7 linked regions of the Homo sapiens genome follow. The protein of the gene in region 2 purifies or fractionates together with the protein of the main gene of each other region. This does not show direct contact. Each region holds a gene or a part of one and is shown on either strand. Other genes may lie near its edges. The genes, in order: ACTR2, MYO19, SIPA1L1, CYBRD1, ITPRID2, DENND2B and SIPA1.

Region 1 (3,500 bases), on a different chromosome or scaffold from region 2:
TGATAGTGTGGCTTCTCTCCATTCTCTGGCTGCTGGCCAGCATGGGGTCAAGTTTTCTAATCACCTTAATGAACTGTTAAAACTGCAGGCATCCCATTTCTTTGCACCAAATCTTATCCTGTTCTGTATTTGTCCACCCATGTCCCTCCTCACTTATTCATCAGCTTATTACTTTATACTTGTGTATATGTGTGTGTGTGCATATATATATCAAATATATATATGGATTTTGTTTTGTTTTTGAGACAGGGTCTCGCTCCTTCACCCAGGCTGGAGTGCAGTGGTGCAATCCTAGCTCTCTGCCTCAAAACTTGAGCCTTGAACTCCTGGGCTCAAGCAATCTTCCCACCTCAACCTCTCAACTAGCTAGGACTACAGGCACGTGCCACTACGCCTGGCAAATTTTTGTATTTTTTTTGTAGAGACAGGGTCTCATTATATTGCCCAGGCTGGCCATGAACTCCTGGCCTCAAGTGATCCTCGTATCTCAGCCTCCCAAAGTGCTGGGATTACCGGTGTGAGCCACTACACCCAGCCTATTTGTATATATTTTTGTAGCCTACCTCAAATTCTTTGAGAAAAGAGAGAAGGAAGAAATAAAACATGTTTTACATTCCTAGTTTGCTTATCTTTTGCCCTGTGCCAGCCACTTTCTTCCAAAATAGTCAGGTAGATGGAAAATCAGACAACTAGAGAAACTGTCAAGAAGACTTCAGGAAGGAATCTCCAGAGCAAATCTGGAGATGATTAAGTTACAAAATGGGTTTACTCCTAGAAGAAAACCTAGCCAATACCATTCAGGACATAGGCATGGGCAAAGACTTCATGACTAAAACACCAAAAGCAATTGCAACAAAAGCCAAAATTGACAAATGGGTTCTAATTAAACTAAAGAGCTTCTTGCATAGCAAAAGAAACTATCATCAGAGTGAACAGGCAACCTACAGAATGGGAAAAAATTTTTGCAATCTATCCATCTGACAAAGCCTTAATAACCAGAATCTACAAGGAACTTAAACAAATTTACCAGAAAAAGACAAATAACCCCATGAAAAAGTGGGCAAAGGATACGAACAGACACTTTTCAAAAGAAGACATTTATGTGGCCAATAAACATAAGAAAAAAAGCTCATCATCGCTGGTCATTAGAGAAATACAAATCAAAACCACAAAATCTCATGCCAGTTAGAATGGCGATCCTTAAAAAGTCAGGAAACAACAGATGCTGGAGAGGATATGGAGAAATAGGAACGCTTTTACACTGTTGGTGGGAGTGTAAATTAGTTCAACCATTGTGGAAGACAATGTGGTGATTCCTCAAGGATCTAGAACTAGAAATACCATTTGACCCAGCGATCCCATTACTGGGTATATACCCAAAGGATTATAAATCATGCTACTATAAAGACACATGCACACATATGTTTACTGCAGCACTATTCACAATAGCAAAGACTTGGAACCAACCCAAATGCCCATCAACGTTAGACTGGATAAAGAAAATGTGGCACATATACACCATGGAATACTATGCAGCCATAAAAAAATGAATGAGTTCATGTCCTTTACAGGGGCATGGGTGAAGCTGGAAACCATCATTCTCAGCAAATTAACACAGGAACAGAAAACCAAACACCAAATGTTCTCATTCATAAGTGGGAGCTGACAATGAGAACATATGGGCACAGGGAGGGGAACAACACACATGGGGCCTGTTGGGTGGGGGGCGGCAAGGGGAGGGAGGTATAGCATTAGGAGAAATATCTAATGCAGATGACAGGTTGATGGGTGCAGCAAACCACCATGGCACATGTGTACCTATGTAACAAACCTGCATTTTCTGCACATGTATCCCAGAACTTAAAGTATAATAAAAAATAAATTTAAAAAAATTTTAAATGGGGGTTTACTGAATATTTGGATCACTATCTTAACTTTTTTTTTTTTTTTTTTTTTACCGACATGGAGTCTTGCTCTGTCACCCAGGCTGGAGTGCAGTGGCACGATCTCAGCTCACTGCAACCTCTGCCTCCTGGGTTGAAGCAATTCTCCTGCCTCAGCCTCCTGAATAGCTGGGACTACAGGTGCCCACCACCTTGCCCAGCTAATTTTTTGTATTTTCAGTAAAGACGGGTTTCACCATGTTGGCCAGGCTGTTCTCCAACTCCTGACTTCAGGTGATCCGCCTGCCTCGGCCTCCCAAAGTGCTGGGATTACAGGCGTGAGCCACCGCGCCCGGCCAACAACAAATTTTTTATAATTACTTTAAAAATGACTATTTTGCATATATTTGTGAATATGTAGAGCTAGTATGCATCATATGGTTTTAAAATACTTGCCTTCATTGCCTATTACTGTTTCATTTTAGTAATAACTAGATCAAAGATGAGACCTGGAAGTACTTTATACTCAGACAAATTTAATAGGCTTAAGATGGTAATTCATTAAAAATTCAAGTAGGATCAACTCCTCTGGTGTTATAAACTATAACCAGGTACTAAATCTCATTAGTTACAATTTCAAGTTAACATTTAACACCTCATTAAAGAATATTAAGTCAGGAAAGGCTGCCACCTACTGAATTAGTAAAGCAATGCTCTAGAATGACCATTTCCAAAGTATGTTTCTTAGATCACTAATCCCATGAAATTCTGAAAAGTCCTAGAGCATAAGTCTGAAAAACACGCATACTATATTAATTGTGCCCATATTAGCATACCAAAGGCTCTGAGTTCTACAGTGAAGTGAAATCAACTCTTTCTCAAACTCATCTGACAATGTAATCCTTTTTAATTTTTGTGAAATGCTTATTAGCATCTCAGGGAAATAAAGTTCTGTAAAACATACATTGAGAAATGCTATGCCAAATACTAGAATCTCAAAATAACATCTCGCATCTAATTATATCCTAGTATAGAGAGTAATTTATGATTCTTGCCTTAATTTGCATTATATGGTGCCCTAAAATAATTAAATAGAAACTTAATGTAGAAAGAGACATTAAAAGTCACACATATACATATTACAACAACCCAAGACAAAAATACTGATTCTAAGAAAACCTCCTTAAGCTGACACCAATAATCATGGCTGTCCACTTTAAAACACATATATATTATACACTGGAAACACTTACTGTATAAGATTCAACTAATACTGTGGTTTCTAAGGCCAGTTTCTGCTCTTGCTCAATATTATATCCCACGTAACACAGTTTTTCTTTAATCATGCGAACCGTTTCAAAATCAGCAGAGTGGTTGAAGGCGTATCCTCGCAACAGAAGTAGCTGGTACAAAACAATAGCAATAAGTTCATAATACATCTGAATGAGTTCTACTCTGCAAAAGCTAGTAATGCTCATTAAATATGTCACATCAATAACAAACAGAATGGGCAGTGGATCCTCAGCTCCTACTATTTCAGAAGCAGGATTTTATCCGCCATAAAAGGATTTATATTTCAGTTTCAGAGAGGGTAAAAGAATTAACAATTCATAAGTA
Region 2 (3,500 bases):
GGTTCTTTCCAACACTTTTCCTTTTCAAAATAAGACCACTATGAACATGTTGGTTAATACATCTTTTCATCTGATGAACTCCTTTTGGTTTTTACCTTCTCCTTAAATTCATTCCAGCCCTAGAGCCCAGCAGGTAATGGTTTGAGTTGTCATAAAGGGAAAAAAAGTTGGCCTAAACAGCTGTCAGGGTCTGAGAAAGGAATTAAAGACAACGCTTAGACAACGCTTAGCCTCCACTTCTTACAGAGCACCTTTGTTTGTGGAGTGACTTGGTTTCCATTGAACTGGAGAGACGTTATGAGTGAGGGGGACAGGGAATTTGAATCCCAGCACACCACAGGGACATCTCTTCAGGCTGGGACACAGCTTCAGGAGATGGGGACTCGACGAGCTATGTTTCAAAGGAAACCAACATCCTGTGGGGTCTGTGAGCAGTGCTGACAGGTGACCTGCCCACCTACCTGCCTGGATGAGCATGACGGCCCGCCACTGCCGCTCCTGCTCTCGGTGCCGGTGTCGCCTCCAGCCACCCTGGATGCAGCGGGCACACTGCTCCAGCACCCGGGCACGCCCACATTCCAGAAGCTCCAGCTGGGAGAAAAGGCATCCATTGAGGGCAGCCTCTTCTCCCCCTGCCCCCTCCTGCTGAGGAGAGCACACAGCTTGCCTCTGTAACCTCCTCATCCCCAAACCAGCTCACCATAGAGTCAGTCATGAACACCTTGGTCCTGCCACAGTGCATGGGGGCTGGCATGGCCTCAGCCGAGTCACCAGTTATGGCTGCTGCCTGAGTTAGGACCGGCAGAGTGTGGAGAATGTCCTGGATGAGAGGTTCAAGCGTGGCTTCCTCGCTGTGTGGACACCATTCTGGGGGAGGGAGATGGCCCCATCAGTGCATGGTCATCTCTACATGCCTCTGTGGCCTGAAGAAACTGGCTTTGGCCTCCCTAGCACTCTACAGGTCTCTTTCCTGCTGTTCTTGGCTCTAGCCATTTTCTCCTTGTTCTTCTTTTGGAGGAAGCCACAAACAGCCTCTCTGTTGTCCCTCAGGGTGCTAGCTGTTCCGTGGAGCCTTGGAATACCCACTTGCGCCTGTGTGTCCTGGGGTGTCCCACAGCCTCTACTGCCATGAGTCCCTTTGGGCAGGCTGGCAGAGGGTGCTTGACACCTGGAAGGGTGACTCCTTCCAAGCTTGGAATCCCAGGCTGCTCAGCCAGCATTTGTTTCCAAGGCCCAAACACACATCCTGAGGGCCAAATAGGGCAGCTATAGGCCACTCCCTCAGCCCCGACCCCTCAACTCCCCACCATGTATGGGAAAAGGGAGATCCAATCCCAGCCCTTAGTTTGGGAATCTTCTACTGCAAATAAAAAGAATAAATTAAAAAATAAATTTAAAAAATCCCAGCCCTGCAAAGGTCCCGTGTCCCACTGCCTGCCCTCCCGCAGCTCGCAGAGCTGACTCCTGGAGAGGTAGGATTTACCTGAGGGCTCTGACCACCTTAGATGCCCAGTGCCTCTCTGAAGACAGAGGCTGCCAAAGGAGACACCACAGATGAGAAACAGCAGCAAAATCAACCAGGGGCCAGAAGGGCTATGGGCAAGAGACACGGAACAGGACAGCAAACCATGGAGAGGGAGAAGAAAGGAGAAAGGGTGAAAGGAAAGTGAAAACTGCCCAGGAGGGGAGGAAACAAAGCAGGATTGCCCCAATGGCTGTGAGGGGCCCAGGGTAAGGCTGGGTGGGAGGGGCAGAGGTGCTGGGCTGGGGTCCTGCCGAGGCGGGGCCCCCCGGCAGCCTGTCCTTGGCCTGTTCTCCCTCTGCCTGTGTCTGGGCCCTGTGGCTCCCACAGCCTCTCTTTTATCTGCATGCCGACAACCCCCATATGAGGGCCTCCAGATCCTTCCTTTGAGACTAAAGCCTGCCTAAGTGCCTTGCAGACTTCTTCACTGGACCTGCAGGACAAGTCACCCATGCCCGGGCTCTTCAGCCTCCCTGAACCTCTTTTCCTCTTGCTTTTCCTCACTTCCCAGGCTAAGTTAATTTACTCCTTTCCTCTCCCTCTACATCTAGTCAAGCCCCTACCAAGACTGACCAGTTTCTTCCAACAAATATTTCCCGACTGTGCCCACAATTCTTGTTTCTCTCTATTGGGGCAACTTTGCAGCCTCAATCCCACAGCCCTCCATGGTGCCCCCAGAGTGGTCTCCAGAAAGTGTGAGGCTGATAAGAGTCATTTGCTCCTTCCCCTGCAGTGCCTGCTCATCTGCCCAGAGAATAAAGTCCAGATTCCTTGATGGAGCCCTACCTGCCACTCCAGCCTCACCTGCCCCAGTTCTCTGCCTCAATGAACCAGCAACACAGAACTGGCTGGAGTTCCTCATACCCACACTGCTGCCTCAAGCCTCTAGGCCTTTGTTCAGATTACATTTATCATGTGGACCACCCATCACCTGGCTAATCCAATTTATTCTCAGATACTACCTCTTCCAGGAAGCCTTCCCCAATTCACACCTCCCTAGCACCACCCACAGCATCCTGCTCATAGCTCTGCTTTTCCACTTTCCATGCTATTTGTCTTTTTTGAATCTGTTTCCCCCACTGAACCAAAACCAGGGCTGTGTTTTATTCACCAGTAAGCCCCAGCCCCTAGCCCTAAGACAGGGCACAGGGTAGATGCTCAGTAAACTGTGGTTGCACAAATGACTAACTCATGGGTCCCACTCACCAGGGAGCCCTTTGGCAGGATATGGGCTGTCGGGGCCAGAGGATGTGCAAGGATGAAGCCTTCTTAGTAACTTGTATCGTTCTACAAAGTTTCGGTGAGAGACCCTGGAGGCCAAAGCAGGCAGAAGTAGAGAATTACTTCATCTGTGAGCCAGGTTAACGGTTCAGGGCTCATCAGAAGTTATTCTATTTAATCTGCTCAACAACACAGCACGGTGCTGCCCTCCCCGAGTATCCCCACTGAATGTGAATGTGGTTTTGAAGCGATTTCTAGGATCACTTAGTTGGAAACCCATAAAGACTATTTAAAATGGGTCTGCTCTCCCTGCTGCCTTGGTCTACCAACACAAAGCATCTCTTGTGTTAGCAGGGGATTTGCGGGCTGCCTCCCTCCAAAGGGGCTGACAGGCCTCTCCCCAAACAATTGGACCAGTCCTATGACGCAGACATGCTTGGCCACATCTCCCCTCTGACCTCTCTGACCCCACAGTCTCCTCTGCCTCCCCCAGATCTCCCTGCTCCTCATCAAGGCAACACTTCTCAGACAGCTGCTGGCACCTGATATCTGCACTTCCTCCCAATTGCTTGTCAGCCCTCCTGAGTCTGGCTTCTGTCCCCAACATTGTACCAGTGTGGCTTTTGTCACAGCCATCAGCTGGGTACAAAATAGTGCACAATAAGTGAATGGATGAACGAATGGGTGCTGCTCCCTAGTTCCCAGCTGACTTCTACAGACCAGCCTCTTTCTCTTCATTTCCACATCTCACTCTGGG
Region 3 (3,500 bases), on a different chromosome or scaffold from region 2:
CATGCAAATCTTATGTCACATTGTTAATAAATATCTTAATATACAGTACTTTTCTTCAGAAAGTACTGCAAAAGAAAATGTAAGAAATAAAGGATCTCTACTTACCCTTCTGGTAGAAAAATTTTCTATAATAGTATGCACCCAGATCTACGTGTTCCACGATGTATCTTTTCACTCTATCTAGGTGCAACACCAAGTTCTCCTTGGGCACTTCAAGTACTGCCACTCCTGCATTTGTGCAATGGGAACTAAGGGTAGACTCAAAGGAGGCACTTTCACATCCACTAAAGGAGCCAGAATTTGATTTTGAAAGGCTGATTTTCCTCTCCCCTTCTCCACCTATCTCATTCCGAAAATATGGACAGCTCATTACAAGCTCATTGCTTTTATCATCTCCCTGGTCCATGCTGAGGCTTCCTTTGGAATTCAGGTCCTCTGTGCTGCCCATTGGGGAGCTAAAACTGGCTGAATGAGACAGAGGTCCAGAGACCAAGGATGCCACGGCAGCTGCGGAAGCTCCAGTGGTGGTGTTTCTCCTCTTAATAACATTGTGCCTGTTCATAATTGCCTCATTCAAATCAAATAATATACTCTGGACATCATAGTGGGCAAAGCACTTTGGACATGTCCAGGGCCTGACAGAGTCTTCTGATCGGTTATCTTCAAGATCTGATGACTTCCCAAGTTCTTCACCTTTGGCATTGCGCAATTTACGAAAAATAGATGAGTCTCCAGTTTCAGATTTTGAACGTCGCTTGAGTGGTTTTTCCCTTTCCTTAAAAAGCCTGAGGTTCTCTCTCTGTGAGATAGGCCCGTCTATTACATCCAAAGAGAAACCAGAACCCTTGCCACCACCAGTAATGAGAAAGTCACTGAGCTTGGTTGGAGTTGGACCTCGATCAGATTTGTCATCTTTGTAGCCCTTTAACAAATCAAAAAAGCTTTCTCCAGATGTTCCCTGTTTATCAATTGAAGATGTGCTACCATATTCCCTGTGCAGTGATGGTCCAGTCTTGTATGTAGGTGAGATACATTCATCAAAGCTATCCACATCAAGTTCACTTATGGTGATATCACTGTTGCTTCGCTGGCGTATTCTGCGAAGAGCTTTTCTGGGGGAGCTGGGGTAGGCTTCAGGCATGAGAAATCTGGAGTCCATGTTCTCCGACGGTCTTGTCTTGTTTTTCAGCGTGTTCTGTATGCTTTTCAGCATGGCTGAGTCATTGGAATTGAGGCTAACAGAACTTCCCTGACTCACAGGACTGCTTTTGGAGGACAGGCTATCAAGGCAACTTGAGGTTTCTATTTCCTGGCTTGAACGGCTAGATTCTTTTATGTTTTCCTTTCTTGGGGGCCAATCTGCAATCCTTGCCCTTACCCCCATTTTTGGGACTCCGGGGGTTGAGGTTATATGGTGAGAACCTTCACTTCGGGGGGGTCCTACAGGAGCCATAACTGATGATCCTAAGCTGCCATTTTGGGACCGGAAGCGCCGCATGTAGAAATCATCAGTGTGGACTTTGGGGGTGCCGTCTGTGCCAACAACAGAGGCCCTGTCAGTGGCAAGAGGCCTTTCTGTCTGTGACCGTTTCAAGCTGGTCATGATGTAAAAGCAAGTAGACTTAAATCCCTGCAGCAAGGACCATCATATCTGTGTTTTAAATGTGCACTTCCCTTTTGGAGAATGGCTTCCAGAAAATACAACAGTTGCATGAGATCTTAATCTTTTTCATTTAAAAGGTTAAATGATGCTTTATTTGTAAAGCACTGAAAAATTGGAACTTCTAAACGTTATAATCCACAACAGTTTCTTTGCTTCACTTTAACAGAGGGCTTTCTTTCAGAAAAAACTGAATGGAACTTGTACTACTGAGATTCTGTGGTTGCCATAATCCCATGCTTTCTCTAAAAGAGAAAAGGATAATTTGAATTAGCAGATAAATACATCTAAAAACAAACATGCAATTGTCAAAACCAGACACATGAAGATAAAAGACTCAATAATGGATTAGGATTCACAGTTCCACAATCCGTATTTTTAGTAAAGCAGGTTTGAAAGAAAGGAAGAAAGTAAAAACCATTTGATAAAATCCATAATTTATATTCTAAAAAAAAAAACTATTAAGACTTCATCTTAATTGAACTGTTTCATAAAATGGGGGGCAGGGGGAGGGGTACATCTTGTTCTGGATATCATGGCTCCTACCCAAAGTACAGACTTTTGCTCCAATGACCTCTAAAAATGTAGAACATCATGAGCTACTGTGATGACCAGAAGTTTGAGATGTAACCAAGTGAATAAGATAATTAGAGCAACAGAGTTTTTTGACAAAAGTAAAAACTGAAAAATGACTTTACTGAATATGCTGCAACAATCACTTTTTAACTCCTCTATTCCAAAATCAATACATGTTTTTTGTTTCCTTACAAAGGCTTAACATAGTTGGCAAAAACAAATACAGCAGGAAAAAATAAATAAAAAGAGTTTTCCCAGAGCCATTATATCCATTAGCACTCTTTTGTATTTTCCTCTACTTTATTACTTACCGAGACGAGGATATTGCAGAATGAATCCAGCATTCACCACCACCTCTTCCCAAGCTCTCCTTAGTTTCTTGTACTCTTAAAAGCTAGAAGTATCTCACTAATGAACAAAATGCCTGCATTTCCTCATGCAGTACAACCTACTCCACCCCATCAGTGCTAATTTATGAAGACGGCAGAAACAAAACACAGCTCTGGGTGGCCCTCTCCATATCCCCAACAGATTACAGAGAACTGTTAGCATCCTTCCAGGTGACGGGCATGGAAACAAACTTCCTCATGAGCACGTCAGGCAGAAGGCAGGAGACACAGATTCTGAGTACAAAATTCTGCATGGTTGCGTACATTCTGAAAAGAAAGGCAGAGGCTCCTTTTCCAAGACTCCACAAATTACACAAGAGGTGGCCTTTAAATTCTTGCCAAATACATGTTTGGAAAGATGCTGCTGAACCAGCACTGAGCTGACAGGGCGGCATTGTCTACAAATCACGGCTCTGACACCGGAGGACGACCTGCACTTGCTGCACTCTCCACTCAATGGTAACAAGCACCTACTTCCACGATAATTAAGCATCTCCCTAGTCGGCTTCCTGCCTCCAAGGCAGGCGCTTTCATTTCTCTTGCAGCACACAGCATCACTTTAGAAGACTCGCTGCTATTTAAAGGCTGGAACATGTAGGGGTGTTTCAAAAAAAAAAAAAAAAAATGCATGCTGCCTGCAGAATGCAGGGTGAGGCGAGCTCTGGCTGGGCTCGTGCTGGCTGAGTCTGTGGAGCCATTCAGATAAATGCCATTTGTTTTCACTAGCACTCCTCTTCACCATCTTTTGTAAAAGGGATAATAGTTTTGCACTGCTACCTAATTAAACATGGCTTTTGAGCTTTCTAGATACTTCTACTGTCAGACTGCTATTATTCCCTTTACATTCCAGAACTTTACATGTTCCTCTTTCAATG
Region 4 (3,500 bases), on a different chromosome or scaffold from region 2:
AATTTATTGTCTGTCTTCTCCTACTAGAATATAAACTCCCAGAAGGAAGGGATTTTGTCTGTTTTCTTCAATGCTGTATCCATAGCATTACCCAACACATAATAAACATTCAATGAATATTTACTAAATTGATGGAAGTTTGGCCAGTTCTTTAAACCAGAGGGTCACACCAACAAGGATTGGAGTACAAAGTAAATAGGTGAAGTAGATTTAGTATACAGCACCCACCAGGGTGTCTTTCTGGATTCAACTAAACATTCAGACACGAGAAACTGCTGCCAGGGGCGGTGGCTCATGCCTGTAATCCCAGCACTTTGGGAGGCCAAGGCAGGTGGATCACCTGAGGTCGGGAGTTCGAGACCAGCCTGACCAACATGGAGAAACCCCATCTCTACTAAAAATACAAAATTAGCCGGGCAGGGTGGTGCATACCTGTAATCCCAGCTACCCAGGAGGCTGAGGCAGGAGAATCGCTTGAACCCAGGAGACAGAGGTTGCGGTGAGCTGAGATCATGCCATTGCACTCCAGCCTGGGCAACAAGAGTGAAACTCTGTCTCAAAAAAAAAAAAAAAAAAAAAAAAGACATGAGAGACTATTAAGACCATACTGAACACCAGTCTACTCAGAAGGATGTAGGACAGAAGTCAGAGCTTGCTGGCAGGACAGTGGCTGGGCAGTGGCAGTGGGCATCCTTGCAGCAGCAGTCATCATAGCCCTCAGTAAGCTATCCTTTCCTCAGGTAACAGCTCAGGCACCAGGAGATGAGATCTGCACTGGTGAGATCAGAGCTTAAAGTCCCCTTGCCCCATAGGAACCACTGTCTTTTGTAGTACTCTGTATACCTACTTCTATGATCCCTGCAAGGGATAGGTAGTGGGTTGAACAGTGCCCCCCAAAAAGGTATGTCTAAATCCTAATCCCAGGTATCCATGAATGTGACCTTACTTGGAAATAGGATCTTTGCAGATGTTAACTATGGATCTCAAGATGAGGTCACCCTGGATTTAGACTGGGCTCTAAATCCTATGATTGGTGCCCTTATAAGAGAAAGGAGAAGGAGATTTGAGACAAAGACACACAGAGAAGAAGGCTATGTGAAGACAGGCAGAGATTGGAGTGATGTGGCCACAAGCCAAGGAAAATGGAGAATTGTTGGCTCCCCTAGAGGCCGAAGAGGGTATGGCATGGCTTCTCCCTCAGGACCATCCTGCTATTATAACACCTTGATTTTTAATTTCTGGCCTCCAGAACTGAGAGATAATAAATATGTTGTTTTAAGTTACTAGATTTCTGGTAATTTGTTATGGTAGCTCTAGGGGATTAATATAGGCTATAACAGTTATCACTGCACTCTGGGAAGCCCAAAGTATTGGCATCGTCATCAGGTATTTACAGATTTTTCATTGTTTCTCTCAGTCCAGACACAGTTTACCAATTGGGTCAGTTTTTATTATAACCAGCGTTGCCTAATAACTGGTGACAAACCACTTATCTGTTTACTAAGGCAGTTAATTAAAGGTCAAATCCTCATGCAGCAGAGTATAGGTGTACACTTGTGTGAGAGGTGGGAACTGTAGGGAACTAGAGAGTGCTCACTCCTGGCAAAACAGGAAGCTTCCACTTAGCCCCAGTGGATCGTGGCTACGTGAGGATGCCAGTTCAAGGTTGCCAGGGCTTCTCATTCTCCCGAGAGAATCCAGGTTTTTAAAAAATTGGTTCAAACAAAAAGTAAACCAGCCACAAAAACAAAACCTCCAAAACATTGGGCTGATCAAACAAAACAACATCTTTGGACCAAATTCCAGTCCATAGCTTCCAGTTTACAGGTGACTCCTGCTAGGGTTTTCTGACTTGACTTTGCAAGGTTTTAAATTTTTCCCTTAAAAGGTAGAACATTCTTCCTTTTTAAGAAAGATAGAGGGCCAGGCACAGTGGCTCATGCCTGTAATCCCAGGACTTTGGGAAGCCAAGTAGGGAGACAAGCCTGGGCAACATGGTGAAACCCCATCTCTACAAAAAAAAATACAAAAATTAGCCAGGCGTGCTGGTGTGTGTTGGTAAGTCCCAGCTACTCAGGAGGCTGAGGCTGGAAGATCACTTGAGCCTGGGAGGTTGAGGCTGCAGTGAGCCATGACCATGCCACTGCACTCCAGCCTGGGGACAGAACAAGACCCTGTCTCAAAAAAAAAAAAAAAAAAGAAAGACTAGAAATCTTTGTTATAACTTTTTTCTTTATATAGAGACTTCCTTAAAAGGTCAAAACAAGCTTTGAAATGACTATACAGACTTTGGCTGTACTTTTCTAAGTTTTTGTTGTTGTTCATTCAATTTCTTCATATTATCCTATCCATTTAATTAACATATTTATTAAGTACTTACTGTGTACCAGACACTGTGTAAAACAAGTAAGATACAGCTCGGTCTGCAAGCTGTTCCCATTTAATTTGGTTGGACACGAGTTATGGTTTCTTTCTTTTTGCTTGTTTGTTTTGATACAGGGTCTTGCTCTGTCAGCCAGGCTGGAGTGTAGTGGCGAAATCATGACTCACTGCAGCCTCGACCTCCCGGGCCCAAGTGATTCTTCCACCCCTCTCAAAGTGCTGGGATTACAGTTGTGAACCACCGCACCGTCCCAGCTCAAATTATGATGGGGTTTTTTGTTGTTTTGTTTAGAAATGTAGGTTATATTGATCCTTAAATATTTAGAGCTGGCTGGGACCTTAAGTTCTACCCTTCATTTTAGAGACCAAATGTCTGGCCAGGGTCAGACAACCAGGTAGTATCAAAGCCAGTACTCTTTCTAACCTGTCATAATATTGATATGAGGCACAAGAAAATATAGCTGATCTTTCTGAAAACACACAATTTCTGAATATTTTTAAATGTGTAGTCAATTAATTGAATTTTTTTCTTTTTCTACATGTATTTGGTACCAAGTAGCTGCCTTTGCGAGGATTTTAATCACTCAGAGATGTTTCTAGGGCTAAAAATATCTTCCAAATCATCTGAATCACTTCCTTCATTTTGACTTTCCAGAGATTTTCAGTTTCATGACATTCGTGCTGTGAGACAGTTTGAATGCACAGACATGTTTCAAAGCTCTGATTCTCTTTGACAGCCACTGCAGGAATCTTTTCAAGAAGTTTATTTAAAGAAGATTCTCTGCTTTTTCATTTAAACTTAAGGTCCTTTGGATAGAATCTGGTAAGCTCTTGCGTGCAGAGGGAAATGAGTTGTGGAGACTGATAATCCTGTTCTGAGCATTCTGCCAAGGAGAGTGAAATAATACTTTATTCAAAGAGGGAAGGGAAGTGTAATGAGCACACCATGTTTAAGTAGAATTCATAAGTGTTTTAAAATTCCAGTGTACTTCAAACTCAATAACTTACTCTTATTTTATTTTTGAATTCACTTCAAGTTGTTAAGTGGGTCCAAGTGCAGAATGCTTTTTACTTATTTGAAAGGGCCATTTGGTCTTCTATTAGCTAATACTTGCATC
Region 5 (3,500 bases), on a different chromosome or scaffold from region 2:
TTATATATATACATACACATATATTAAATGCATATTATTGTTTAGAATTCCAAAAACTACACTTAGATCACAAAGATTATAAAACCCTATTTTTTCCTCATCTAACACTTAAACCTTCTCTACATTCACTGGGTGGGAAGGAGCAAGATTTTTACTCTAAGCACTAGAATTTGTATTTTTAAAAAATCAGAAATAAGCACAAAGCATAATGGCAACATTGAATAAAACAGAAAGAACTAGCTATTGAATCTACAGTTGTGATTCTATTCTGAAGTCTTGAACTCCATTAAGACTCTTTCAAAATTCTCCTAAGAAAATGCATGTAAGCATATATTTTATACCTAATTTGCAGGGTGAGGGATTTATTGATCTCTTAAAACTGATCCATGAACAATGCAGGATTGGAATCCTATTTTTGGAATCTTTGGCTAACAGAAAGAAAACAAGCAAAGATATGAGTGAAACTGATCAAATTAGCCAGACTAGTTCCTGAAACAGACTGACTTCATTTAAGATTAACAAGGCTCCTCTCCTACTTCTTTTCTTCTTGAATAAAAGCAATCTGTAGACAACAATAAGGTTCTGCAAATAAGTTATGGTAGCACTTAAGTCAGGAATTGGGGAGGAGGGGAAAAATAGGCAAATTAACCACTATAAATGGAGTAATAAAATAGCTTAATTTTAACATGTAAAAATGGCTTTTGCGTTAATCAATCTCTTTACTTTCCAGTGCTATTCCTGAAAATTAAGGCTTTAAAATAAGACCATCTTGCTGTAGATGCTATAATTTAAGAAAATAATATGCCTAACACTTAAAAATCTTACTTGTTAAAGCATAATTTGGGTTTTCTACTTCCATCCGTTGCATCTGAGCACTCAAAAATACTTTAATATCTATCCCTTTGGCAAAGGATGATGAATTAAAAAATCTGGAAGGAATTTTAGAAGCAATATCTGGTTCATCACGTCCAAATCCAAGATTATAAAGAATTTCTTCAGGATCTTCCTCATAAAGTTCCAACAATTCTGAAACACTACAAAAAAAGGGGGCAAAAAAGGAAACATGAAAATATAAAATAAATTGATAGTCCACACCACATTATAAATGAATACATATTACTGATTTCCTGTGATAAAATCTTTTTTCTCAGCTTCTGCTCTGGAAACCATTATTTATTTTACCATGTTTACACATGTGTACTGGGGAATAAATAGCCCTTATAAAGGGTTCATTGTCTCAAGTTGCTAGAGTTGCAGAAAAGAGCTAACCCCAACGAACACAGTCAGAGATTCCCTACGTGATTCCTCACCTTATTTGTTTTGTCATTTTAAGAGATTCCCTGTAAAGCAGCTAAAACAAGTAGAAGACAGATGATGAAGAATAAGGAATGAACAGATTAAAGCAGAAATTAAAAGGAACTGAGGGACATTTTGTGAAATTTGAGCTTTTCTGTTATCCTTGTCCTAGGAGTGGCAATTGTCCTAGGAGGAACAATAAAGATAACAAGCTGATTTCAGAGAAGCGAGGGAGGAGCTTACTTTCAACTTCTCTCCAACCACTTCCACTCAGGAAGTAGGAGGAGTAAGGTACAGAGAGTGTGGGTTACACAAAGGTAACTACTCTAATCCTATTGGGAATTAAATATTTAGTATCCCTTCTCTCTCATACCAGTGATAATCCAAGCTTTCTAAGACTCACTGAAGAAAACAGGAAAGTTAGAGATGGAACTTCAACAGAGAGACATTTCAATTTGTTTCAGACAAAATGCTCAGATTCTAATATTATAATTTGGATAACAGTTTAAACTGGATTCCATAGGCACATGCACTGATGTATTTTAATATACTATATGTGCGGGCGGGAGAGGGGCAAGGGTATTTTTCTGTTTGGCTTTTTTGAGACAGCGTCTCACTCTGTCAGCCAAGTTGAAATGGAGTGGCACAATTATAGCTCACTGCAGCCTCAACCTCCTGGGTACCACTTCAGCCTTCCAAGTGGTTGTGACTACAGGTGGATCCCACCATACCCAGCTAATTTTTGCATTTTTTGTAAAGACAGGGTTTCGCCGTTTCCCCATATTGCTCAGGCTGGTCTTGAATTCCTAAGCTCAAGTAATCCACCCACTTTGACACTCCAAAGCACTGGGATTACCGGTGTCAGCCACTGGGCCTGGCTATACTATATATTTGAAAGATCTTTGGTTTAATGTGTTGAAAAAAAGTATGCTTAAATATCAAGCTGTAACTTAGAAAAATTTATTCTGATTTTTGTGTCAGAGTTAACTCAAGTCCTTAACAATGAATTTTGGTTCTCTACAACTACAAGTTACTCCGCTATGGAGTTCCTCTTTCAGGCTGTTGAGAGGGCTCAAAATACTCATTTATGGGTTCCAGCAGCAGTATAAGCCTATTTATTGCATTTTATTTAATCTCAAAGTAAAACAAAACAAAACAAAACAAAACAAAAAGCTCCTATCAGTTGTGCTGGTACAGGAAACGCTCTTTTTGTGTTCTTTCTGATTTCATATGATCAAGGTCAAATCCAAGATTGAAAAAATGATAAGAGTAGGTCATCTATAGCACAATGTAATTCCAACACAATTTCAGAATAAGTTACCTTGAAACTGTCCCACTACTTTTCCCAGATCCAGTGGAATTCATACTTCTCCCTTTCTGATGAAACTGTAATCTTCTCTCTTTGGCCAAGATATTATTGCTACGAACAAAATCAGATTATATAAAACTTTATAACTTTATTTTCATTAAAGGTCTTCATTTTTTAAAAGAAATAGAACAAAACAGCTACATACCAGTTTTCAATTTGAGCATCACTTTCATGGAGGTGGTTGGCTACAGGTAAAAACAATAAACGTAGAGCACAATTGTTAGTAGGACTATAACTACTATGATACAATTATCAAGAAATCTAATTACCTACAATATTAGAATTAAATGCCAAATATATTAAACACTTATCTTGGTCCATTAAATCTGCATTATTAAAAGTGATATACAGATAGATAAGAACAGGGCCAGGAGCTTTTGAAGGGTGTTTTTGTGTTGTGGCAACATGAAACTAACTACTCTCACTTGAGTGCTTAAAATAAAAAAACGTATAGGGAACCAGTTAAATTTCTTTAACAGGTTAGAAATAAGTAATGAGGAAGATATGTACCATATATGTGGTACTAATTATTAAATTTAAAAGCTATTAATGAATAATATCTTAAGAGGAAAACATGATTTAACATTAAGTGTGGCAATAGTATATGTCAGTTTCTAATGTGAATTTTTTTTAAGGTTATAACTGATTTTTCACACATATAACATGAAAATTTCTACTTATTTCAATATAAACTTTCTTTTAAAAATTGCCTTTCAACTTTATGATAGAACTTTAGCTTAAAGTTCTAAACAGGTAAGTGTTAATGTTTAAAGTTAAATTTATAGACAAATACAAAGAATAAAATTAATTATAAACACATCTATTTCAGCACACA
Region 6 (3,500 bases), on a different chromosome or scaffold from region 2:
CTCCGTCTCAAAAAAAAAAAAAAAGATTTACCCTCTAATTAGGACTCTTTTCAAACAGGCTTCCCCTGAGTTTGCATTGCCAGATTGATTGGGTGAGAACAGGAAATTGGGGGCTGTGGAGGAAGGAGGATTTGCTGAGGAGTGAGGAGAGGCAATTCCAGAACCAGACAGTGGTTGGGTGTCTGTGGGATACTTGCCTCCTGACAGGGTCCGCGACAAGGATGGTGCCCTGGGATGAGAGGTCAGCGCATATGGAGAGAGGCAGAGAGTAGATCAGGGCTGGGGAGAGGGCAGCCAGGGCCTTGTGGGTATGGGATCCAATTCAGTGTGAGGCCTGCCTGGCCCAGCTTTGGTGGTCAGAGCCCAGAGCCCCTGTGTTCTCCATGGGAGCAGTTAGGAGGGCCAGGCTGCAGGATCTCCCAGCCCAGCAGGCTGGCCAGTAGGTTATGGCCTCTGCTGTCAGAAACCTTTTAGGATTGGCTCGGGAGCAGAGGTCCGGAAGACTGGTTCCATCACCCAGGCCCAGTAATTCTTGTCCCATAGCTCAGGAGGACCCCCGCAAAATTCCCACTTAGTCTTCTTTTTCCACTCAGATGAGAGCACAGGTGTTTTTAGCCTCTGCTTTCGTTTTTTGCTGGCAGTAGTGAAGCTTCCTTTAGGGAAGGCAAGTATCTAATCTATCCCTGACCTGGCTGATTAGCAGCTAAAGTCTTAAGAGAGGGATGGAAGTTCCAGGGCAAGATGGCGGGGATCCAGGGATGCCGGCCCTTGGCCTCTGTGTCCCCATCCCAGCAGACAGACACTGGCCAAGGCCTCTGTGGCAAGCCCCTCTCGCACGTCCTCTCCCCCACGCCAGCTTTCCCTGAAACCCAACAGCCAGTCCCTGCGCAGTGGGAACTGGTCAGAAAGGAAGAGCCACCGGCTGCCACGATTACCCAAGAGGCACAGCCATGACGACATGCTGCTGCTGGCTCAGCTGAGTCTGCCGTCCTCACCCTCCAGCCTCAATGAAGACAGCCTCAGCACCACCAGCGAGCTGCTGTCCAGCCGCCGGGCCCGCCGCATTCCCAAGGTACCCTCCCCAGAGGCAGCCCACTGGAGCCGGGCAGGTGGGCGGGCAGGCAGCCAGCCTTTCTCTCTCTTTCCTGGCTTCCTTCCTTCCCTAATCTGGACTGCTTCCTCGATTCCCTTTGAATAAATTCTGGGTCCGTGCACTGGCCTCTTTTTCATCTGATTAATTCCCCTTTCTTATCAATAAAGATGCATTAACTGACCTTGGTGCTCAGATGTTAGAGGAAGGAAAGTCTAGCCGAGGTTCCCCATTAGTAAGTGTGGTGTATGAATTTTGGGGTATCCGCACACATAAGCATTTCCAGGCTTTCAAGGACCTAGGACTCAAACAAGGGTTCTTCCTATAACTCTCAGCATTGAAGAATTTTCAGCAATGATTTTCACACATAGGCAGCCAGGCCCAAATCCCCAGCCCAACGCAGCAGGATTTAGCCAGATGGTATTTTTAACCTGCAAACAATGCTTGGGTATATTGGGAATTTAGCTTCTTCCTGTCGGGGCCCCAGGTTATGGCCCAGAGGGGAAAGGCTAGAATCCTTGTTCCTGTTATTGCATCTCAGAGGCTCTTTGTCTCAGTTGGTTCAATGACTCTTGGGACCCAGGAGCTACCATCCTGTCTAGTTTGATCACAGTTCCTTCCTCTGGGGAGCTAAGTTTAGTGTCCTTGTCTTGGGGCAGGAGACCACTCCTGGGGGACTAGGTATATGGAGAGCTACCATGCATGGCTGGTGAGTCACCACTTGAGGTCGGTTCTGCAGTTAGACCAGTCCTGGACCCAGCGGGTGCAATGCAGAAAGCTTGTACCATTAAGGGCAGGGATGGGCTCCTACTCAGCCTTCTTGGAAGTAGGGCAGCTGGTGTTAAGGTTACCTCACCCATCCTGCTTTTCTCACCCAGCTTGTCCAAAGAATTAACTCCATCTACAATGCCAAGAGAGGAAAGAAGAGATTAAAAAAGTTGTCTATGTCCAGCATTGAAACAGCATCACTGAGAGGTAGGCTTTGGTGCCAGAGCTGGTTCAGCTGTTTGGGGCCCTTGGGCATTAGGAACGGGAGAGGCATCAATTTACCTGTGGAGGGTAGAGCCCTGCCAGGAAATGGCCACGTAGGAGGGAGGAGCAGACAGGGAAGAAAGGTCTGGGATGGGTTCCTTCAGACTTTGGGCTGTGAGGCCCTGAGCAGGGAGGTGGGTGTGGGAATCGGCTTCTGCAAAAGGAAAGGCCAGACTCACTGAGCATTGCGGTCTGTTTCCCATTTCAAATCTTGACCTCCTGGAGGCAGGGTCCATCTTTTCCAGGCCTGTAGGCCCCTCTTCTGGCTCAGCCTCCAACTCAGGCCCTCAGCTTCCCTCATGGGTTTGAATATAGGATTCGCAGTGTGAGCTCTGAAGGAGCCTGGCCCCAGGCCACTCAGCTCCCTGCCTGCAGATGCCTGACCATGGGCCCAGAGTAGCCCAGAGAAGGTAGAGATCCATCCCCTGTGAGAAAAGCTGGGGTGGTGGGGGAGCAAAAAACATTGGCTGTGAGGTCCAGCAAGTATGTACTCTGCTGTTCCTTTTCCAGATGAAAACAGTGAGAGCGAGAGCGACTCTGATGACAGGTTCAAAGGTGAGGCACAGCTCCCATGAGTACGGAAGCTCTCCCAGCAGGGCTGCAGGGAATCAGCCTTCCCTTCCGATGCATGTGTGGTTCCAGTGTCCCTAACCGGCCTGATGTGGAGAGGTGACAGACAGGCCAGATACCAGAACAATAGAGCAGGGAGCCACAGGGAAGTCTGTCCTTATAGACATGTGAGCTCAGCCCTGCAAGGTTAAATCCAGATGTCTCCCTTTGCCAAATGTAAGGGTGGTGACCTGCCCAAACTGTCCCAAGCCATTGTCCATGGGAGTTGGGTGCTAGATTTGCCTGGTAAATGTTGTAGATCTCAGCCGGGCGCGGTGGCTCATGCCTGTAATCCCAGCACTTTGGGAGGCCAAGGCGGGCAGATCACGAGGTCAGGAGTTCGAGACCAGCCTGGCTAAGATGGTGAAACCCCATCTCTACTAAAATAATACAAAAATTAGCCAGGCACGGTGGCGGGCGCGTGTAATACCAGCTACTTGGGAGGCTGAGGCAGGAGAATCACTTGAACCCGGGAGGCGGAGGTTGTAGTGAGCTGAGATCATGCCACTGCACTCTAGCCTGGGCGACAGAGCAAGACTCTGTCTCAAAAAAAAAATTGTAGATCTGGAGGGTCAGAGAGGGGTACAGAAGATTACAAGGACCTCTTCTGGCAAGAAATGTGCCGTAGACTGAGGAAACTGTTTCTCTGGAGGCCCTGCAGTCCCCCATCTCCCCTGTCCCCAGAGAGGAGCTTGAAAAGGTTCTGGAACCTTCACATTCCAGGGTCCTTGGATAAATCTTTGTGCTTTCTCTACTGGGAAACCCTGCC
Region 7 (3,500 bases), on a different chromosome or scaffold from region 2:
TCTGCCCCCCATGCTCCCATTTCTGTGCCCTCTTCCCGGCTCTTCCCTCTGCGGATAACTGGATAACCATGCCCAGCTCAAGGTGCTCTGAACTCCTCCAAACAGCACAGGCTCCCCTCCAGCGGTCACCTCCCTTTTCTACAACTAAACTTGTCTGCACTTACAGTCCCCACTTCGATTTCATTCCTCCCAACCCCCTGCACCCCCCACTCCCCATATGGTCCCCAGATGTGGCCTCATCCTGGTACCCTCTCAGCCATAGGTGGCACTGGGGATAGCTGGAAACTCACCTTGCCTAGGGCCCCAGGAACCCCGCCCTCTTCTGCCTGGGCCTCTTCTCCACCCATGCTCCTCCCCCTCCCTGGCTGCAGCAAGGATGACACCCCCATCTCCGCCTCCCATTCAGACCGGCCTACCAAACCCCGGGCCTTTTTCTCCGGCTGCCTAATGTCTCACCTTGCTGTGACTCCCCCACCCTGCTCCTCCTCCTTAAACCACCACTCCTGGGGGCCAAGAAGCTGGGAAATCCTAGCACTTCACCCCTTCCAGTCAGCCACATGACTACCCAGTCCTTCCTGGACTGTCACCTCCTCTTCACCTCCACTATCGCTGCCACTGTGTCTAGCCTGGGCAACTGCAATAGCCTTCAGCCTGGCATCCCCGCCCCGTACAGTCTAGTCCCCATGCTGCAGCCAGAGAGCTGCCCCTCTCAGATCTGCACCGTATCCCTCCATGGCTCCCCAGTGTCCACGGGAACAAATGCAAGCTTCTCCCCCGCCCCTCCCCACAATCCCAACCCCAGCCACGCTGAACTGACTGCCTAATGTGCCATGCTCTCATTCTCCAAGCCTTTGCACAAGTTATTCCTTCTGACCAGAAAACACCTGCTTATCCGGGCCTGAGCCCTTTTGTGTTCTCCATGCTGGAAAACCCTGGCCAAGGAAGGGCTCTCATCACTACCGTCGTGGCCCAGGCAGCCCTCAACATTCCCTTTCAGTGTTCCAGTACTGCTCCTGTGTTTCAGCAGTTCTCTGTGGGTCTCTTTCTCCCACCCAGCTGTGAGCTACTCAAGCAAAGCACCTGGTCTAGACCTGTCCCCAGCATCCAGTCTGAGGCCTGGCACCAAAAAGGTCTAAGAAATGTTTGTTGAATGACTGATGGGTTGAATGATACAGAGGAGAAGACTCAGCCAATGGGCAGCTTTCAGCATGGAGTGGGGGATGGAAGGAGCCGCTCCAGGAAGCTGTGAGCACCACATGTTAGAGGAAACCCAGCAGGGGCTGTGGGGGAAATTGGCCAGGAATGATGCGGGAACTGCAGGACCAGTGGGGTGAGTCAGACCAGGGCATCTAGGGCTGCAAATATCTTTTTAAAATGCAGACTCTGGGCCAAGGGCAGTGGCTCATGCCTGTAATCCCAGCACTTTGGGAGGCCGAGGTGGGCAGATCACAAGGTCAGGAGTTCAAAACCAGCGTGGCCAACATGGTAAAACCCCCATCTCTACTACAAATACAAAAATTAGCTGGGCGTGGTGGCATGCACCTGTAATCCCAGCTACTCAGGAGGCTGAGGCAGGAGAATCTCTTGAACCCGGAAGGCAGAGGTTGCAGTGAGCTGAGATTCCACCATTGCACTCCAGCCTGGGTGACAGAGCGAGACTCCATCTCAAAATAAATAAATAAATAAATAAATAAATAAAGTGCAAACTCTGATTCAGATGGTCTGGGGTGGGGCCCCAGAATCTGCATTTCTACATGATGTGGATACTGCTGGTCTACAGAGCTCACTTTGAGACGCAAGGCTCCAGATGAACTCTGATGCCCTGTCTCTGAAAAGCCAGCTCTTCTGGGGTCACCACCCAGCCCAGGATCAGGGTCAAGGCTAGGGGTTTGGGAGCTGGGCAGGCTGGGTTCAGACTGGGGCCAGCTGTATGGCTGGGGGCTCCGCGGCCCGCCACTCACCACTTGCTCATCCAGTGTGAGCAGCGTCCGTGGTACCTTGGGTGAAGCTGAGCCCAGGCGCAGGCAGCTGGGGCTCAGCTGCGGCGCCACGTGCTCCAGAAGTTTCCTTGGGGACAGACCCCGTGGGGGCCCCGGCGGCAGCGCGTCCTCCGAGATGGTGCCACGGAGTGTCCGGAGCTGAGGAAGGGGTGTAAGGGCACTCAGGATGCATACAAGGTGTCGGGGAGGCAACCCACGTCCTGATCCCGCGATCCCGGCCCACCTGCGTGGTCCGCACGATGACGCGGTAGCTGTGCAGGGTGCCCCCTCCGCTGCCCTCCTTCTCCTCCCGCCGCAGGCTCACTGCCACCGGGCCCAGCGACTCGTCCATCCCGAAGAAGTTCTGATGTTCTGGGGGACCGCGCCGAAGAAAACGATTGGTCCCGCCCTCTGGCAGCCCCGCCCCCGCTCGACCACGCGCATCACTAAGCCCCGCCCTAGGCTTCATCTCACCACCAAATGTTGACCCTAGACTAAGTCCCGCCCCTCTGTAGCCCCGAGCTCAATATCTTGATCTCAACCCTGACCCAGAGGTGGACCCAGACCCAGACCTAGACCCACGCGGCCAGCTCCCAGGCCTAAATCCTGCCTTGGCTCCACCCACCACGCCCTCATTCTCCCTTCTATGTCCTGGAGCCCTCTCTCCGCAGTGCTGGTGCGAACAAGGTTCACGGATGCAGGGATTTGAGGCCTGAGTTTTCACCCCACAGAAAAGCCCATAGGGAATCTCTCCCCAGCCTGGCAGGTTGAACCAGATGGAGGATGAACCAATACGGAGGCAGAGGGACCAGCCCTGGCTGGGGGTGAGGAGCCAGGGATTAGCCTTAAGAAGGTGGTTGAAAGTAGGTCCAGGAGGACCCCAGCTCAGCTCTTGAGCCCTCCCAGGGCCAGGGACTTTACAGGAAATGGACAGTTCATGAGCCCTACTGTGTGCACTGCAGGTGACAGGGACCTCTTCTTCAGCCCCCCTCCTCCACTCCCTGGAACTGCCTTTCCTCACCTTTGCCATAGAAGTATTTGCGGTAGTAGCCAGCACCCAGGTCTGCGTGCTCCAGGCTGTAGGCCGAGGTTCGGTTCTGTGGCTCCTCCAGGATGGACACGGCCGCGTTGGGCAGTGCAGGGGGCACAGGTGGGGATGCTGGTCCACCCAGGCCTAGCTCACCCTCACCCCCGAGCTCACACACAAAGCCAGGTGCCCCATGCAGCAGGTCCGAGCTGGCAGCCTGGTCCTCGGCTGAAGCCAGGGTCCCAGAGCTGGCCTCTGAGTGGCTCCCCATCCCCTGAGACCTCGGAGCCCAATCAAAGAGCAGGCTTTGCACGTCATAGTGGGCAAACCATCGAGGCTCAAGCACTGGTGGGAAGGCAGGCTCTGGTTCCTCTGCTGGCAGCCCCAGCAGTGCCAGCGGGTCAGTGAAGAGCCGGGTGGAAGTGGCTGCAGGTCGGCTGGCCTCTTCGTGGCTGTGGGCACGGGCACGGGGGCTGGCTGGCGTGGGGGGCCTG

What was found.
Region 1: the proteins of MYO19 (region 2) and ACTR2 purify together in Homo sapiens (affinity purification with mass spectrometry; one large-scale study listed by BioGRID and IntAct). This does not show direct contact.
Region 3: the proteins of MYO19 (region 2) and SIPA1L1 purify together in Homo sapiens (affinity purification with mass spectrometry; one large-scale study listed by BioGRID and IntAct). This does not show direct contact.
Region 4: the proteins of MYO19 (region 2) and CYBRD1 purify together in Homo sapiens (affinity purification with mass spectrometry; one large-scale study listed by BioGRID and IntAct). This does not show direct contact.
Region 5: the proteins of MYO19 (region 2) and ITPRID2 purify together in Homo sapiens (affinity purification with mass spectrometry; one large-scale study listed by BioGRID and IntAct). This does not show direct contact.
Region 6: the proteins of MYO19 (region 2) and DENND2B purify together in Homo sapiens (affinity purification with mass spectrometry; one large-scale study listed by BioGRID and IntAct). This does not show direct contact.
Region 7: the proteins of MYO19 (region 2) and SIPA1 purify together in Homo sapiens (affinity purification with mass spectrometry; one large-scale study listed by BioGRID and IntAct). This does not show direct contact.

The regions. Positions count from the first base shown.
Region 1 is NC_000002.12:65,255,331-65,258,830, reverse strand, and holds part of ACTR2 (actin-related protein 2), read right to left. Parts: intron 3,287-3,500; coding exon 3,137-3,286; intron 1-3,136. UniProt on the Homo sapiens protein: ATP-binding component of the Arp2/3 complex, a multiprotein complex that mediates actin polymerization upon stimulation by nucleation-promoting factor (NPF).
Region 2 is NC_000017.11:36,500,369-36,503,868, forward strand, and holds part of MYO19 (unconventional myosin-XIX), read right to left. Parts: intron 2,833-3,500; coding exon 2,729-2,832; intron 1,594-2,728; coding exon of another isoform or gene 1,574-1,593; exon of another isoform or gene 1,491-1,573; intron 868-1,490; coding exon 701-867; intron 592-700; coding exon 462-591; intron 1-461. UniProt on the Homo sapiens protein: Actin-based motor molecule with ATPase activity that localizes to the mitochondrion outer membrane. Motor protein that moves towards the plus-end of actin filaments. Required for mitochondrial inheritance during mitosis.
Region 3 is NC_000014.9:71,585,976-71,589,475, reverse strand, and holds part of SIPA1L1 (signal-induced proliferation-associated 1-like protein 1), read right to left. Parts: intron 3,179-3,500; exon of another isoform or gene 2,548-3,178; intron 1,906-2,547; 5' UTR 1,604-1,905; coding exon 106-1,603; intron 1-105.
Region 4 is NC_000002.12:171,528,974-171,532,473, forward strand, and holds part of CYBRD1 (plasma membrane ascorbate-dependent reductase CYBRD1), read left to right. Parts: intron 1-3,500. UniProt on the Homo sapiens protein: Plasma membrane reductase that uses cytoplasmic ascorbate as an electron donor to reduce extracellular Fe(3+) into Fe(2+).
Region 5 is NC_000002.12:181,898,230-181,901,729, reverse strand, and holds part of ITPRID2 (protein ITPRID2), read right to left. Parts: intron 2,851-3,500; coding exon 2,811-2,850; intron 2,717-2,810; coding exon 2,618-2,716; intron 1,035-2,617; coding exon 826-1,034; intron 1-825.
Region 6 is NC_000011.10:8,713,175-8,716,674, reverse strand, and holds part of DENND2B (DENN domain-containing protein 2B), read left to right. Parts: intron 1-856; coding exon 857-1,072; intron 1,073-1,968; coding exon 1,969-2,065; intron 2,066-2,632; coding exon 2,633-2,677; intron 2,678-3,500.
Region 7 is NC_000011.10:65,641,101-65,644,600, reverse strand, and holds part of SIPA1 (signal-induced proliferation-associated protein 1), read right to left. Parts: coding exon 3,001-3,500; intron 2,352-3,000; coding exon 2,224-2,351; intron 2,139-2,223; coding exon 1,962-2,138; intron 1-1,961. UniProt on the Homo sapiens protein: GTPase activator for the nuclear Ras-related regulatory proteins Rap1 and Rap2 in vitro, converting them to the putatively inactive GDP-bound state. Affects cell cycle progression.